Regions from separate parts of the Homo sapiens genome. Here regions 1 and 2 are each linked to region 3. Evidence: fine-mapped expression QTL. A gene starts in region 3. Each other region holds a variant in brackets. All regions are shown on one strand. Distances are from middle to middle.

Evidence for each region. PIP is the estimated chance that this variant, and not a neighbour inherited with it, causes the effect. A credible set is the group of variants that fine-mapping cannot tell apart.
Region 1: its variant is the best candidate, but not a certain one, in a credible set for the expression of CPT2 in whole blood (INTERVAL, PIP 0.61).
Region 2: its variant is the best candidate, but not a certain one, in a credible set for the expression of CPT2 in whole blood (TOPMed, PIP 0.71).

Annotation. Positions count from the first base shown.
Region 1 is chr1:53,279,263-53,284,903 of GRCh38, forward strand. LRP8 (LDL receptor related protein 8) reads right to left here. Exons shown (of 19, transcript NM_004631.5): 4 at 1,325-1,453. Among named protein-coding and RNA genes, the nearest start is that of MAGOH-DT, 43 kb to the left of the region's middle. The variant G/A (reference allele first, on the strand shown) is at 2,192.
Region 2 is chr1:53,240,743-53,246,377 of GRCh38, forward strand. It overlaps LRP8 (LDL receptor related protein 8), which reads right to left. Exons shown (of 19, transcript NM_004631.5): 19 at 1,622-5,635. It overlaps MAGOH-DT (MAGOH divergent transcript), which reads left to right. Exons shown (of 3, transcript NR_038953.1): 2 at 1,105-1,203; 3 at 1,696-2,041. Among named protein-coding and RNA genes, the nearest start is that of MAGOH-DT, 5.0 kb to the left of the region's middle. The variant G/T (reference allele first, on the strand shown) is at 2,436.
Region 3 is chr1:53,193,734-53,198,733 of GRCh38, forward strand. CPT2 (carnitine palmitoyltransferase 2) reads left to right here and starts at 3,091. Exons shown (of 5, transcript NM_000098.3): 1 at 3,091-3,362. The coding sequence starts at 3,211. RefSeq lists a silencer at 3,075-3,434.

The DNA of each region.
Region 1 (5,641 bases), 86 kb after region 3:
GGTGGAAGCTATAGCATAGAAGCCCAGTAAGACCTTCTGACACCTCTCTCTCCCATAATTAATGGGGAATGTTCCTATTCCAACATGCCCTAGTTGGAGAGACTCCCATCCCTTGCAGTAGCGGCCTTCATATTGGAGGAATCATCTGATTATGGGGCTTGGTAAAGAGGAAAGAGGATTCTCATTGGCCAGTGAGTCCCAGCAAAATTATCACAGCTGAGGAAGTGAGCCAGTGCCATCACTGGGACTTTGAAACTGCTGTTCCCAGCCAGGATCTCCCTCCATACCCAGATGCTTCCTGCTTCAGACACATCAAATTCCAGACTTAGAATCTTAAAGTGTGACGACTCAGACACCTCTGGAGGAGATGGCATTTTCCCTGGGCCAGGAAAGATGGATAGGATGCAAATATAGAGGCTGGCAGAGGGGAGTAGGCAGCAGTGATGGGCAAGTGCCTGGCAAGCCCTCCAGGGTGACCGCCCGTATTTCAGCCCAGCCGCACAGCCTAGTAGCGACAGCCAGTCTGTCTCCCCCACTAATCATGTGTTCCCAGAGGGAAGACTGTGTAGGATTCACCTCACTGTCCCTTTCAGAGCCTGGCTTCAGGCCTGGCACACAGTAGGTGCCCCTCGAATTGAAAAAGTGAGGCCTGGCCATGCTCCCCAATGGCCCAGGCCCTGCTGGCCTGCTCCCTGGGAAGGAGATAATCCTGTGTTTGAAGCTCAGTGATGTGGAACTGTCCCAGTGACCACTTCCATCTGTCCCTGCCGAGGCTGCTGAGAATGTCTTCTCTGCCCTGTGACGTCTGTGCTTGAATCTGAGATTTCAGCAACAGTCGTCCTTGACACCTCAGGAATCCGTCCCCCTCCCCCCAGCATTGCTGGCGCCCTGGCTCAGACCACCGCCATTTCTCCACGCAGCACCCTCCCTGGTCCCCCTGCCCTTGCTCCAAGATTGGCAGACTTGTGGGATGGATGAGCAGATGTCAGACATGGTAACAAAAGCTCATGGGCTTTGCTGTCCAGTCCTGAATCTGAATCTTGGTTTCATCACTCAGCCTTGGGTACTTTTCCTCCCTTGTCTGAGCCTCAGTTTCCTCACCTATAAAATGGGGATGATAATGGCTGCTCATGAGGTGCTTGTGAAGATGAAAGAAGACCATGTCTCCATAGAATCTAGCCATTACTAGTGTCCTGATCGTTATCCTTTCCTCTCCACCACCAAGCCCCACGGGGAACTGGGCCCCCTCCCCAGAAGTGGCTGCCACTCCCTGAGGCTGCCTGACCATGCTTGGCAGACCCTGGAGATCTGACCCCAGACTCACAGGTAGCACAGCCGGCCTCATCCGCTCCACCCTCGCAGTCCTTCTCCCCGTCGCAGCGCCACGAGGCAGGTACACACTTGTGGCTGGTGGGTCCACAGCTCAGCTTCTCTGCAGGACACACCTGCTTGGCTGTGGAGACAGACGTCCATGCATAGCTTAGCCAAGGGGGACACAGGGCATGGTGCCAACCAGTCCTACCACCCTGTTCCAGCCATCTGGTCCAAGGCCCTAGGAGTCCATCAGGGCTCTTCTGGCCCATGTCTCAGTTTCATCAGCTGAGAAGAAGCCTCTGTCTGTGCCAGGAATTTTCAAATCCTAAATCTGACCCTTCTCTACATAACATCTTTCATGGCCCCCTGGTCCCTGGCCCTCAAGTCCCTTTGATCCATTGACTTCTGCCTGCCCCTCCTGGCCACACCTCCCATCCCTCCAAACCTCCACTTTAAGTTCTGGCAACATGGAGCCACCATGCCCTGCACTCTTCTCTGCCATTTCCCAGCTGTGTGCCCTTAGGTGAGATATGCCCCAGCTGGGCCTCAGTTTGCCTTCCAGATCAGTGACTCCATGATTGGAACCTGTAAATTTGGAGGGCTCACCAAGGCCCCAACGGCTCCAATCGGCCCGCCTCTAAGCCCCCTCCCCGAGTGATGGTGCTGATCCTGCTGCTGAGAGCAGCTGCTGCATGGCAGGGCCCAGCGGGACTGCATAGCTATAATTACTGCAGCCGCAATCAGAGGCTGACTCAATCAGGGGCCTGAAGCCCCAGGGTTGAATCTCAATTTGGAAGGAAGAATGAGAACCCTATTCAAGGCTGGGGACAGCTCTTATCATGAGTTTCTGCTGGACCCATGTGACAGGCTCAGCCAA[G/A]GCAGATGCATCTCAGACCTCCGTGGTTGGCTCCCTTCAGCCTTCCAGGGTGTGCAGGAGGCCCGACCTCCGTGGTCTCTAGGATGTGCCAGGCATGGTGCTAGACACTTCCATCTAATTTTCACAATAAGCCAGCAGGGTGAGAGGATTATGTGCTGGCCTCCAGCATAGAGGCGGAGAACATGGGCTCTGGAGCCTGGCTGCCTGGGTTCAAATCCTACTTCAATCACTCACTGACTATGTGACCTTGGCCAACAATCCTTATCTCTGTGCCAATAAAGTGGGGATAATACTATCTCTCATAGGATTGTTATGATGACTAAGTTAATGTCTGTAAAGCAAGCACCTAGAAGAACACCCAGCCCAGTGCTCACTAAATGTTACCTACTATGATTATCCACACATACCAGATGACTCTGAATTTTGCTTATTCACTGAGTATTTGAGCACTGCTGTGTGACAAACATGGTGGTAGGCACTAAGTTCTGGTCACAGAGCTGATAAAGAGCAGTGTTAGGATTGACTGAAAGTCAGCTGTGTCTGATGCCGGAGACTCAGCACAATCCATTTCTCCCCGGAGGCAGTGGGCTACTCATGCTTCGCCCTCCATTTTGCTCTCTGATCTCAGACCAGTTTCTCCTCTTCCCATTTCTATAGCTGGGATGAGAGACCACAAGGGATACAGAAAAGGGCACAGATGAGTTGGGGAGGGGAGCAGGTATCTGAGTCAAGGTCCCTGGACACCACTACTGCCATGGGAGAAGAGCATCTTAGGCCCCTGAAAGTGAGGTCCCCAACGTTATCCCTAGGAATGCATTTCATGAGTACAGGGCAATCCCTTGGGAATACAGGATTCCTGGTATTCATTTCACAGAAATTTCCCTTGCTCGAGGATTGGCAGACTTGTGGGATGGATGAGCAAATAACTGTCAGGTTGAGCTCTGGAAAGTACTAACCCTCAAAGGCCTTTTATATAAGGCCACCTTGGGGCTGCAGTGCAGGGTGGTGAAGGGAAACTGGGAGTTGGGAGATGGGGTCCTTCCAGGGTACCTCTATCACCAACACTGCAGGACCCCAGGTAAGCACCTCCCCTCTGGGCCCCACTGGAACACAGGAAGCTGAAGCTGACCAGTGCTTTGCTGGGGTCCTCTCATCAAAGGGTGGGGGGTGAGGGAGCTACTCAAAGTGCAGGTTCCTGAGCCTCAGCTCATACTGACTGAATCTAGACTTCTAGGGCAGAGCCTAGGGATCTGCATTTTAGTAACTCCCCACCAAAACCCAGGGGATTCCCATGCACCTCTATTTGGGAACCCCTGGGTTGGTTAACATTCTGCAAGCATAGAAGACAAGGGATGTTTCATCTCTTTTCAATTCACTACGATAAAAGTGATACAGATGTTCCATACACTTGCAAGCCCCTAAGAGAGCAATGGGATGGAAGGTCAAAGCAACTACTTATCCCTAAGCCAGGCCTCAGGAAACAGAACCTCTCAAGGGAGGGGGAGGGGAGTCCCAGTTTTTGAACACCTAAGTTGTGTCAGGCTGCTCTGTGCTGAAAATTTTATATTTTTTCATTTCATTCTGCCATGGTCTGAACGTTGGTATCCCCTGAAAATCCATGTTGGAACTTAATCCTCAATGTGATAGCATTAAGAGGTGAGGCCTTTAGGAGGTGATTAAGCCATAACAGTACAGCTCTCTTTAATGAGATCAGTACTCTTACAAAAGAGGTCAGGGGGAGCCTCCTTGCCCCTTCCACCACGTGAGGATGAAGCAAGGAGGTGCAGTCTATGAGGAACGGGCCCTCACCAGACACGGAAACTGCCGGTGCCTTGATCTTGGACTTCCTACCCTCCAGAACTGTGAGCAACAAATGTCTGTTGTAAGGTAAGCAGGCCTTGCGGGCTGCCAGTGCAAATTCCGGGGGTGCCATTCACAAAGGTCATCACATAAGTGGCATACCCGGGCCACTTACTTACTACATACCCGGGCCACTTACTTACTACATACCCGGGCCACTTACTTACTACATACCCGGGCCACTTACTTACTTACTACATACCCGGGCCACTTACTTACTACATACCCGGGCCACTTACTTACTTACTACATACCCGGGCCACTTACTTACTACATACCCGGGCCACTTACTTACTACATACCCGGGCCACTTACTTACTTACTACATACCCGGGCCACTTACTTACTACATACCCGGGCCACTTACTTACTACATACCCGGGCCACTTACTTACTTACTACATACCCGGGCCACTTACTTACTACATACCCGGGCCTTACCTACTACATACCCGGGCCGCTTACTTACCTACTACATACCCGGGCCGCTTACTTACCTACTACATACCCGGGCCGCTTACTTACCTACTACATACCCGGGCCGCTTACTTACCTACTACATACCCGGGCCGCTTACTTACCTACTACATACCCGGGCCGCTTACTTACCTACTACATACCCGGGCCGCTTACTTACCTACTACATACCCGGGCCGCTTACTTACCTACTACATACCCGGGCCGCTTACTTACCTACTACATACCCGGGCCGCTTACTTACCTACTACATACCCGGGCCGCTTACTTACCTACTACATACCCGGGCCGCTTACTTACCTACTACATACCCGGGCCGCTTACTTACCTACTACATACCCGGGCCGCTTACTTACCTACTACATACCCGGGCCGCTTACTTACCTACTACATACCCGGGCCGCTTACTTACCTACTACATACCCGGGCCACTTACCTACTACATACCCGGGCCACTTACTTACTACATACCCGGGCCACTTACTTACTACATACCTGGGCCACTTACTTACTACATACCTGGGCCACTTACTGCACTACAGCAGGGCAGCAGTCCTGCACGTAAGCACTCCATTTTATAGATGAGGAAACTGAGGCTCAGAGAGACCAAGTAACTAGCCCAAAGATGCACAGCAGGCGAGAGACCGAGCCTGGGTTCCTATGACTAGAGCCTTGCCCTTCCATCAAATCCTGCATGCTCCAGAACCATCCCCAAACTCTCCTCACAAAAGCCCAGGTGACAGAAAGGGCCCTTGGCTGTACGCTCCACCTCCAGGGTGGACCTCCAGGTTCTACAGACCCCAGTGCAGCAAGCGGCTGCTTGAACTTTTAATGAATATTTATATAGTTAATTGCATAACCTTTCAGCAAGGACAATGATTAAACAATCTGTCTGCTTCCTTTCTTTATAATTAATAAGACATTTGCTGTGTCCCTAAATAGACAGCTCTAATTATAGGTTCTCAAGGATTCAGCAGTGCCTGATAACAGCCCTCCACCCTCAAAGAGCCAAGGCTCTTGGAATGCCAGGACTTGAGAGATCTCAGAGGTCACACTGATGAACATCCCTTGGAGTGGCAGGAGACCAAGGCCCAGAGAGCAAAAGGGACCTGC
Region 2 (5,635 bases), 47 kb after region 3:
ATGTAGAGGGATTAAGCAATTGCTACAAGGTTATTTTCCAGGAGTAAAATTATAAAAATCATAAGTGAATCTGGGGATCTTCAGATGTGGCAAATAACAAAAGTGTTGAGAAATTTAAAGGACACACAACTCCAGTCAGGCTGTGAAGTAATCCAGGTTTCTGGATATGAGACATGGTGTAACTGAAAGAGCATGGTCTGTGTGTCTGCAGTGCCTGCATTCAGCATCATTTATTTGAGCATCCACTGAGTGTCATGTGCAGAGAGGATACAATGTTGAGCAAGACAGTTGTTCACAGAGCTTGCAGAGGAGGCAGTTAAGGAGCATACAAGCAATTACAATGTAAGGATAAGATTACCAATAAAGGAAGCACAGAGGACTATGGAAGCACATGAGGTGACTCCTAATCCAGTGCAGGGTCCTTAGGGAAATGTTCCTGAAGGAAATGTTCCAGACGGAGGCCCAGAACTGTGTGATTAGAATATAGAGTAGTGAGTGATGAAGCTGGAGACAGGGCAGAAGCCAAATCATGAAGGGTTTTATAAGCCATATTAAAAGAGTTTGGGCAAACCCAAGAATATTGGATTTTTGTGCCAGCAAAGCAGTTGAAGAGCTTTAAGCAGGAAAGTGGAAAGAAGTGGTGGTGATACATCTATGGTACTTTAGAAAGACACTTTGGCTGCAGTCTTGTAGGTTAGATTGGAAAATGAAAAGACTAGAAGTATGACATTCAGATAAGTAGTTTAAGTAATCTATTAGCTGGGCAGGGTGGCGTGCACCTGTAGCCCCAGCTACTCGGGAGGCTGAGACAGGAGAATTGCTTGAGCCCAGGAGGCGGAGGTTGCAATGAGCTATGATCCTACCACTGTACTCCAGCCTGGGTAACAGAGTACGACCCTGTCTCTTAAAAAAAAAAAAAAAAAAAAGTAATGGAGATAGAAAAGTGGATGGATTTGAGATGGAATACCATAATTTAAGGGGTAGGCAAAGGATACTAAGATGTGGCCAGAGAGATAGGAGAAAAAACATGAAATGTTATCATGGAAGCCAAAATAAGAATATGCCAAGAAAAGAGTGGCTAACAGTGTTAACTACTGCTTCCAGGTCAAGGAAGAGCAAGACTGAAAATGTTTACCAGATTTATAATCGAGGAGGTCCTGGATGACCTTGGCAAAAGCAACCCCAATGGCATGGGAATGAATGGTAAGGCAGAAGTATTGGGATGCAAGTAGGCAAAAATTGTTATCGAAGTACAGAGGTGAGTTATCTAACCTAGTCTTAGAGAAAAGGGAAGGCTTCCTGGAGGAGGCATTACCTAAGTGGAGTACTCAAGGACAAATAGGAGTTAGTCATGTGGAGGCAGAGAAGGAAAATTTAGGCAGAGAATGCTACATGTACAATTGCTCTTTGGGGGCACTAAAAATAACCTTGTGACTTTGGGCAGTTACTTTGCCCATTTTCTCATCTATAAAATGGGAGTGGATAGTATTGATAGTATTTATCTCACCGAATTGTTGACAAAGATTGGGATAATTTATATAGAATACTGGTACACATTAGGGACTCAGTAATAGTTCACTCCCCCTCATTAAAGTATTACAATGAAACAAAACTTAAAAGATTTTTTTTAAATGAATTTAATCTCTCTCTAGAAACAGTGCACTGATTTTACAAATGTCCACATTTGGTTTTCAGTTTACCAAGATGATGCCAGTATAGCTAGTGAGATGCAGCACCCCATCCTCAGCCCCCTCGCCTCTGGAAGAGACACCAGACTGCAAAGGGCACCGCGTACAGAAGCTAACGGAACTTGAATGACAAGACAAAAAGAGCAGAATCAGTTAGTGTGACACAACATTCTAACATGCCTGATTCTTACATCAAATATGGTAACTTTGGGGTTGGTAGGGGGAGACAAACAAGGAGAATCCACTTGGGAACAATTTGATGAAGTTTGCAAATCAGCACTTTACCCCCAAATTAACAACAGCTTGTATGGAAAAAAAAATGCTCTTTTAAAAGTATATGGTTTGGACAGGTATATTTGTTTTCTCTTGTAGTTTTTGTAAAAAAGTATCAAAACCTTGGCTTTAAATATATATATATATATATATATACACACACACACACGTGGCTTTTTAAAAATTACTTTTTTATAGCACAAAGTGTTTGTAAATGCAGAGGGTTTCTGCTAATTCTTGACTGTGCACATGGTGCATAGCCTGAATGAACAGAGCTTCCTGATTTTTTTTTAACTGAAAAATTGAAGCAGTAATTCTTTAACCTTCTAAATTCTCCATACCCTAAAAATACAGTGTGAGAAGTCTGTTACTCTATCTTCATGCATTTCGGGAAAAGGAATTATTTACTCTGAAACATTTAATGCTAACTCATTTATATTTTGTGAAACGATGAGTGTATGGCTGGAGTTCGGG[G/T]GGTAGGGTGGAGAGGCTTGCATTCCTGTGCCATTTCCCCATTCCCACCAGTGCCCAACTGGACAGTGATTAGTATCCCCTCTCCAGACTCAACGTCTTCAACATTTTCGTTTTTCTTTCTCACAGTTGAGAAAATCTAAGAGGCTCTCGACAACATGGCATGCATCTGTGAAAATCCCACTGCCCTTATATTAGTCTTCATTGACCATATAAAAAATCTTTGACTCAAATATATGAAAAGCAGTCAGCATTTCCCTTTGGCCACTGGAAAGCTTGAGGCTGAATAATATCAGTTCTGCAAAGTGCTGGCAATGCATCCTAATGAATTTTCCATGATGCATGTAGTGCCTTGTACACAATGATCAAGAAATGCTTCATTGAATCAGAAATTAATCTATTTTATAAAGTGCTTACATTGAATCTCTTTCCATACAGCCTCATTTCTTGCCCCCCTTGAGCCTTTTGTTCCTGTTAGAATGAACTGTGCAATTCCTAAAGTCCCTGTGCTCTTTCATACCTCTGTGTTTTAGCTCGATGTGTCTCTGTCTGAAGCAGCTTGGAATCCCCTTCTTAATTTTTAAGACTTAAGGTCACTTCTATGATGACCCTATTCCTCATTTCTTAGGTGGAAAGACCCCTCTCTCCTTTGAGCCCTAACAGTGCTCTGAATAGAATCAATGCCTTTTTTGTTTCCACATATATCATCCTCCACTGCTACTGTGAACTCTGTAAAGTCAGAACATGTGTGACTGACCTTTACATCTGCAGTGCCAGGTGTGTAGTTGGTATCTAGTGAGTGGTTTTAGTGAATGAATATACTGCAGTCATACTGAGATAACTGGAGGGATCAATAGGACTTACTGCCATACATTTAAATCCGATCTCATTCTCTTTTTGCCAGTTAACAGGTTACTTCAATCTGTTTTATAAATAATCTGTGTATCAAGAGTAAATAAGTACAGTTTCGTTTTCTCTGTTTCTAGAAGGCATTTCAGTTAGTGCCTTTGTAATTCCACTGGAGGAAAGGTAGACCATAGTATAGGTAGCAGGTTTGATACAATGTTCAGGCAGCCCAAAATAGTCTTCCTGCAGAAGGAAATGGAGGAAACGCACTGGGACTGGCTTCTGATAAATTTTCTGCCCCCTTGGCATTGTCTCTGAGCTTCCTTCCAGCTCTATAGTCCAGTGACTCTGTGATCTGTGATTGGCTGTAGATAGCTATGCACGGGGGCAAAAGGCAAAAGATATGTAACTGTACCTCAAAATGAGGCTGAAAAGCCTCTATGAATGGGGGAAGGTGGATCTGACTCCTCAGGTTTCATCTTATTTACTGCCGTCCAACACATGAATATATCACAATTTGTTTCTTGTAAAGGGTTGCTCCCATTGCTGCCTCTTTCAAACTGCAGTTGTAGCATATGCAGGAAACATGAATGTCTCTGAGAAAAAGTTGTGAATTTCATTGTCATTTTGAGATCTCAGGCTGTATGTCCAGACCCCATTCATCATTTTTTTCTGTGAATGCCAGGATCTTACTGAAAGTTTAGAAACTATGCCTTAGCCACTGTTATCATTTAATTCCTTGGAAAATTCAGTTTCTTTGGAAGGTTACAGAAAAAGTCACTTGTTTTGAGTACATTTCCATGTTTTTCACTGTCATCATTTTTCTTCAGTCAAAAATAATTTTACTTTCCGTTCTTAAAAGAATAGTAATATGTGAGTAAGCTCCATAGGAGTTGGCCACCTGTTCTTAAAATTCTGTTTGGTATTGGTCATTCTAGGTCAACTGCATTTACCCTCTCAATGAATGTTTCAGGACTATCAACACATGCATGTCATGAGGAGATTGCTGGATTATGCAAAACACACTGCCCAAGCTCCAGAATATAGTTATTTTCTTAGAGTTTAGGAGGCCAAGAGTGACACAGAGGAAGGTCCTAGGTACAGGATGCTAGAACTCCAGAATGTCTGACTGAAAATTCAAAGGGTATCAAGCTGGTGAGACATCCAACTTCATTGAGTTGGGGGCATCTGGCAGGTAGGGATGGGAAGGCATTTGCTTAAGTGTGTCAAGTTCCAGGTATGATGAGATTAGATGCAGCTCCTCTGCTCCTACTTAAGTCAAACACTTCCATGTTGCACCTTGTCCCTGGTTGTCTAGTGGGAGTAAGTGGCAGAACAGCAGAGTTAAGAAACTCAAACTCTTTCTCTTTGGATGGGAAAGCCACTGGGGACTGAATCCTTCTGGGACTATAGGATTATGTTTCCAATGGGAGACCCCACAAGTAGAAAAGAGCACTTCTCCCTTCCTCCCCCAAGGCCAAGAAAAGCAAAGAAGATGTCTATAATGAAGAACATCTATACATATACCCGGAGTTTTTCCTTTTATTTACAAAGCAGTAAACCAAATTCCTGTGTGAACATAAATATCCAATATAATATAATATTGCGTATGCCATTTCCCCCCTCAAATATGACTTCAATTTTGGCCAGTTGTTCTGACTTAAGCCAAAAATTAGTTTCATCTATATGAACATATGATGGTAAGTAACCTATTTATTACCTTAAAATGTTTCCCCACATAAAGGAAATGGTAGAGAGTAAGGGGAAAAGAGAAATAAGAGATGTGATAAAACCTATTCCACCATCTTTATCTTCATCCACAGCATGTCCTAGACATTCAGTGCCTGGGCCAGTCTCTATAGTAAACTTGGGCTGATCTGGAAACGTCTCCACTTAGCTCTGTAAGGATGGCACCCTTCAGGGTGCTTCAGAGGAAACTTACTGAATTCAACCCAAGTGTCCTGAAAGAAATTGAAGAAGTTACTCAAAGAGCTGAACTTTAAAACAAGGAGTAGCTGAGGGTGAGGCATATCCTATCTTGAGTTTCTGAGCACTCTGGTACCATGGAATGTCTGTACACTGACCTTCGCCAAAGCCAAGAAAGCCCTGGTAGGAGTCACAGCAGCCATGGGTGAGCTGAAAGGCTTTTCCTGACTTCCTGGGGTCTCAGGAATAGCCAGAGGTGAAAAGATTTGCCTTTTTTACTACATAATTGCACAAACCATGGTATCTATTTTCTGATCCAGATTTCCAAAGGCTTTTCTGAAAACTACAAGATATACCCCTTGTGGACTGTGTGAAAATAAATTTATCTTTATGTATTTGAACAGTAGCCATAGATGTGCCTCTTCTCTACA
Region 3 (5,000 bases):
AGTTACAATATCTAATGTGTCCACAGGTATGTTTTAAAAGTTCCTTTATGGGGCAGAGAGAGCATTTTTTTAATACTCTGGTTTCACTTTTTTGCATTTAAATACTTTCTCACATACTCAATATTTATAAAAGGGTTAGAGTTCATTTTAACAAATCCCATTAAATAGGCAGGGCTTTTCAAGGTCTTGCCTATGAATTTCCTCATTTCAAGCACTGTTTAGTCCAGGTAAGCTCCAATAGAACCTGAGAACTTGGGACTGCCAGGCCAACTCTAGGTACTAGTTCCTGACATTTCTTTGAATATTTGGGTGGTCACATTTGTTTTCTTTGGTCATACTTACCCAACTGGACCTCTTTTTTGTTGAAATGTGAACTCTACTGCTAGCCAGTTAAAGTTCATTGTTTTTCAGAACTTTGATTTTGAAGATGAATATGACTTTAACCTGGCCATCATGTACTGCTTTTTCATAGTTAATTCAAAACAGAGCAGAACTCTGGGGATTAGTTCAATAGAAACAATGTATTCTTCAGGATCTTTCTCTAAGTAGAGGAACTTTCTTGACCCTTACACAGCAATATATGGACTTTTTGGACTACCAGCTCATGGTTATTCTTAATGTGATCCAGACCCCAGGGCCATCCCCAGGAAAAGGAAGCAAAGCACCTCCCCACAGTAGGCCTGTGCTAGACACAGTGGACACACAGTGGAAACAAGGTCCCTGCCCAAAGACCTCAAAATTTATTGTGAGAGATGAATTGGTAATTAAATAGCTGATTATTTTAAAAGCCCTAATACAGTTGTGTTTCATGTACATAACTGTAAATGAATGTAAAAAGTGCTGTAAAATCACAGTGGGAGGGATTCATTCTTGCAGTGAGGAAGAAGGATGAGGATTGAGGAAGACTTCAAAGAGGTGAGTTTTGAAATAGGGTTTGAAGGACAAGTAAGAGTTTACTAGGCAGAGATGCATGGAAAGAACATTCCAGGCAGCAGAGACAGCTAAAATAAATAAATAAATAAGTCGCAGAGTAAGGAAAAGGATGGGAATGAGAAGTGGTTCAGTGTTACTACAGCATAGAGCAAGCTTGTCCAACCCACAGCTCAGGATGGCTTTGAATGAGGCCAACACAAATTAGTAAACTTTATTAAAATATGAGATATTTTTACAATTTTGTTTTGTTTTTGCTTATTAGCTATCATTAGTATTAGTGTATTTTATGTGTGGCCCAAGACAATTCTTCTTCCAGTGTGGCTCAGGGAAGTCAAAAGATTGGACACCCCTGGCATAGAGTATTTTGGGGTGACATGATGGGAGCTGGAGAAGTAGGTAGGGGTCAGAATTCAGAAGGCCTTGGACACCAGCCTAAAGGCTTAGAGTTGCTCCCATTGGCCATGCACTCACCAAAGGTGTTCACGTCCCTCTTTTGGCTGTTAGATTGGATGGGCTCAATCTTTTGGCCCTCTGTCTCTAGAATAGAGCCGCTGCTTTTCTACTGGGCCCACTATTTCTTCCTGGTCCTCTGATCCCCTTAGCACTACACAGATCTCGATATTTGCCTCGGGTATCAAGGCTCTGAAAATGATCAGGATTTAGAGGAGATGGCTCATTTTCAGAAAGAGTTTTATATTCTCCCTCTGGCCTTATACACTACAGGCAAATGGCACCGATGTTTTGGAGTTGGGCCAGTTGGGCCTTTTCTCCCCTCAAGAGAGGAGGATTCGATATTCAGTGTTTCTGAATTTCATGCTTAGTTCTTAAGCCATTTCCCATTTGCCCTAAGAAATAAGAGCTGGCAGCAAGCTGCGCTGTTTTTTTCTAAACGGGAAATGGGTTAAGCATTTGTGATCACCACTGAATGAGTGCCAGAGCTGGTTAGTGATCTTCCTGTTCAATCCGAGGTCACCTAACTAGATAACAAAGAGCTGAAACTAAAAGTCCGGTCTCCTGACTCCCAATCCAGTACTCTTTCTGGTGTGCTCCAGCTTCTGGCTCTGCTTAGCCAATTATGGAACAGACAGAATGTACTTGGCTGCCCCAAACGGCTAAAGGGCAGTTCTGTTCCCAAAATGGAATTCTGTTGTGCCTCAAGCTAGGCAGCATAATTGTGTGTCTTTTGGTAACTCCCTGTCTTCTTCTGTAAAATGGGAGTAGAGCCTACTTAATCCTGCAGCTACTTCTAAGATCAGGGATTGGGGCGTGGTGGGCTGTTCTGCAGCTGTTTTGTGATGGATGAGGGATGATAGATCTATGTTCAAGTAGCGGAATCTTAGAGTCAGGAGTTGGAAGGAATCTTGGAGGTGGTCTGTGGTGACAGGAAGCCTCTTCCAATAGACTGAACACGGAAGACTTCCTAGAGCCGGAGGACAAGGGTTTCTTTCCTCTTAGCAGTGAGCTTCTTGTTTTTGGAAATGCTCAAGCCAAGAATGGATGTTCAGGCAGAGGGGATTCCGCTCGGAAGGGGCTTTCTGCACTGAAGTGGTGGCCAGCGGGAAACTCCAGGTTTCCAACTCCTGCACAAATCCTTTCTAATATCCATCCACTCAGGTGAGCTGGCAGGGCAGTAGCTGTGCAGGGTTCAGGGTCATTATATGTCAATGACCTTCAGCACGGATTACTAACAACAGTAACATCCGTTACCGTTTACTGCTTTCCTATTAAGCACCATGCACTGTGCATAACATGTTATCTTTATCTCATATCTAGAATTTTGGGAGGTACTTTGAATCATTACGATCTATCTACTTCTTAGGTGAGGAAATAGAGGTTTAAAATTTAGTCCACAGTCTCGCAAGGATGGAGCCTGGATCAAATTTTGGGTTATCAGATTCCAATCACGTTTCTTAGCTTTTCTTTTTTTTTTCCAACTCCAGTTTCTGTCTTGCTCCAAAAAAGGGGAAGGAGCGGCTGCGGCGCTCGGTTTCCCGCCTCCTAGGGAAGGGAAGGGAGACGAGCAGCGCGGAGGCTGGGGCCCCCTTCCGGGCGGGGCCTACTAGTGGGCGGGGCCTGTCAGTGAGCGGCCCCTGCCCGGAAGGAGCCAGTCCGGGGCGGAGCCGATGGCCTTACAGGGGCCGGAAGTGGCCTGCGGGCGGAGAAGTGCCTCAGGAGTCCTGACGCAGTGTCTTGGGCGCTAACGGCGGCGGCGGCCTTGTGTTTAGACTCCAGAACTCCCCACTTGCCGCGTTCTCGCCGCCGCAGGCTCCCGGGACGATGGTGCCCCGCCTGCTGCTGCGCGCCTGGCCCCGGGGCCCCGCGGTTGGTCCGGGAGCCCCCAGTCGGCCCCTCAGCGCCGGCTCCGGGCCCGGCCAGTACCTGCAGCGCAGCATCGTGCCCACCATGCACTACCAGGACAGCCTGCCCAGGTGAGCCTGGCCTCCGGGTCCCCGCCGCCCGCCGCCGTCCCAGGATCGGCCCCAACCTGACTGCAGTCACTCATGACTCCTCTAGTGAACCCGTTTCCGCCCCCAAGCCCCTACCATGGAGGCTGCCACAGCCCCTAATCTGGAAGTCTTGGGACTTTTCACAATCTCCTAGCACAGGAACCTCAGAACCCTCAAATTCTCTTCCAGAACCCCTCGATGCTATCTCAGATTCTCCATCTTGAACGCTTCTCAGATTCCCTCTCCTTTAACCTAACTTCCAGCCAGCTATCCTGAGTCCTCTTCTCCCTGAAAAATGCCAGACCTGCATATTTCCAGCGCCGCTGTAATCCCTCGACTATGGTGTCTCCTGAAGTACTTTAATGACTGCCTCACATTCCTACCCGGAATATGGGTAGGCTGATTCCTAATACATCATGGTTACCATTCCTTAACTTCTCCCAGCACCGCCTTCACCCCTGTCACTCAGGACCCTCAGCCCCACCTCCCATTTCTCCAGTACTCTGTTCTTTCACCCCCCATGAGCCCCCACAAGCACAGCCCTGAAGTGTTCACCCTTGTCCTCAACTGACCCTCCCCCATGTTTTTAAATCTTTAATCTCCTAAATCCAGTGTTCACCCGGAAACCTTTCACTCTCTCCAAGCCCTCCTCAACAGGTTCCTCCCCTCAAAATATCCTTCCTCACCCACAGTACCCCTTGTAAGTGCAGCTCACCCTCACAGAATTCTAGACACCACCCTCAGTACCCCATCCACACTCCATCATACTCAGATCCAGGGTCCACCCAAATTTCTCTTCTCCTCCTCACCACTGGCTACCCTGCCTTCGAAACACTTCACCCAGAATCGACTTCCCCTCTGAAAAGAGCCCTAGTAAATCCTCTTCCCCTTCCCTCCCCCAGTACTTTCTTAAATCCAGCTTCCAGTTCTTCCAGCCTTCGAACTCCGCTTTCGTCTGAGTTGCCAGATCTCCTTCTTCAATATTAGAAATTTTCTTCACCCTCTAAACCAAACCTAAACTAACTTCTAACTTACTGAGTGAGTAACTCAGTTCCTGGAGCCAAGTTCAAAATTTGTCTCAAAGACCCTTCTCACCTTATTTCTCACCAAACTGCCCTCAGGGATTCCCCACACTCCAAGAGCTAGAGGCCAGGCTTCTTCCCCATGTGTGGAACATTGTGTCACAGGCCTCACCCGAGCTGCTGGGTTGTTTTTCTCTGCATCTGGGACCACTTAACCCAACGTCATCACTACATACCCTCACCCTCTCAGGAGGATCGAGTGATTCTTGTGAAATTACATTTTGTGCAAACATCTAAGACATGAAAATGAGATTATCTACACGTGGCAGGAGGGAGGAAGAAAAAGGGGCTTTGTGCCTGTGGCATAAGCCTGGTACATGCTTCCACCCTGTCAACCTGTGTGTATGAGCTGAGCCAGTATATGGGTGAAAGGTGAGGACTGACAGAACCTGTCTTCACTTGCCAAGTTCAGAGTCAGATGGTCACTGACTTTCAGGCAGGCCTGGGCCCCACCCAGGTTTAAGATCAGAGGGATTTTCTGCACTTTAGAATTGGAAAGCTGGAAAGAATATTCAAGATTATTTATTCCAACCCCATC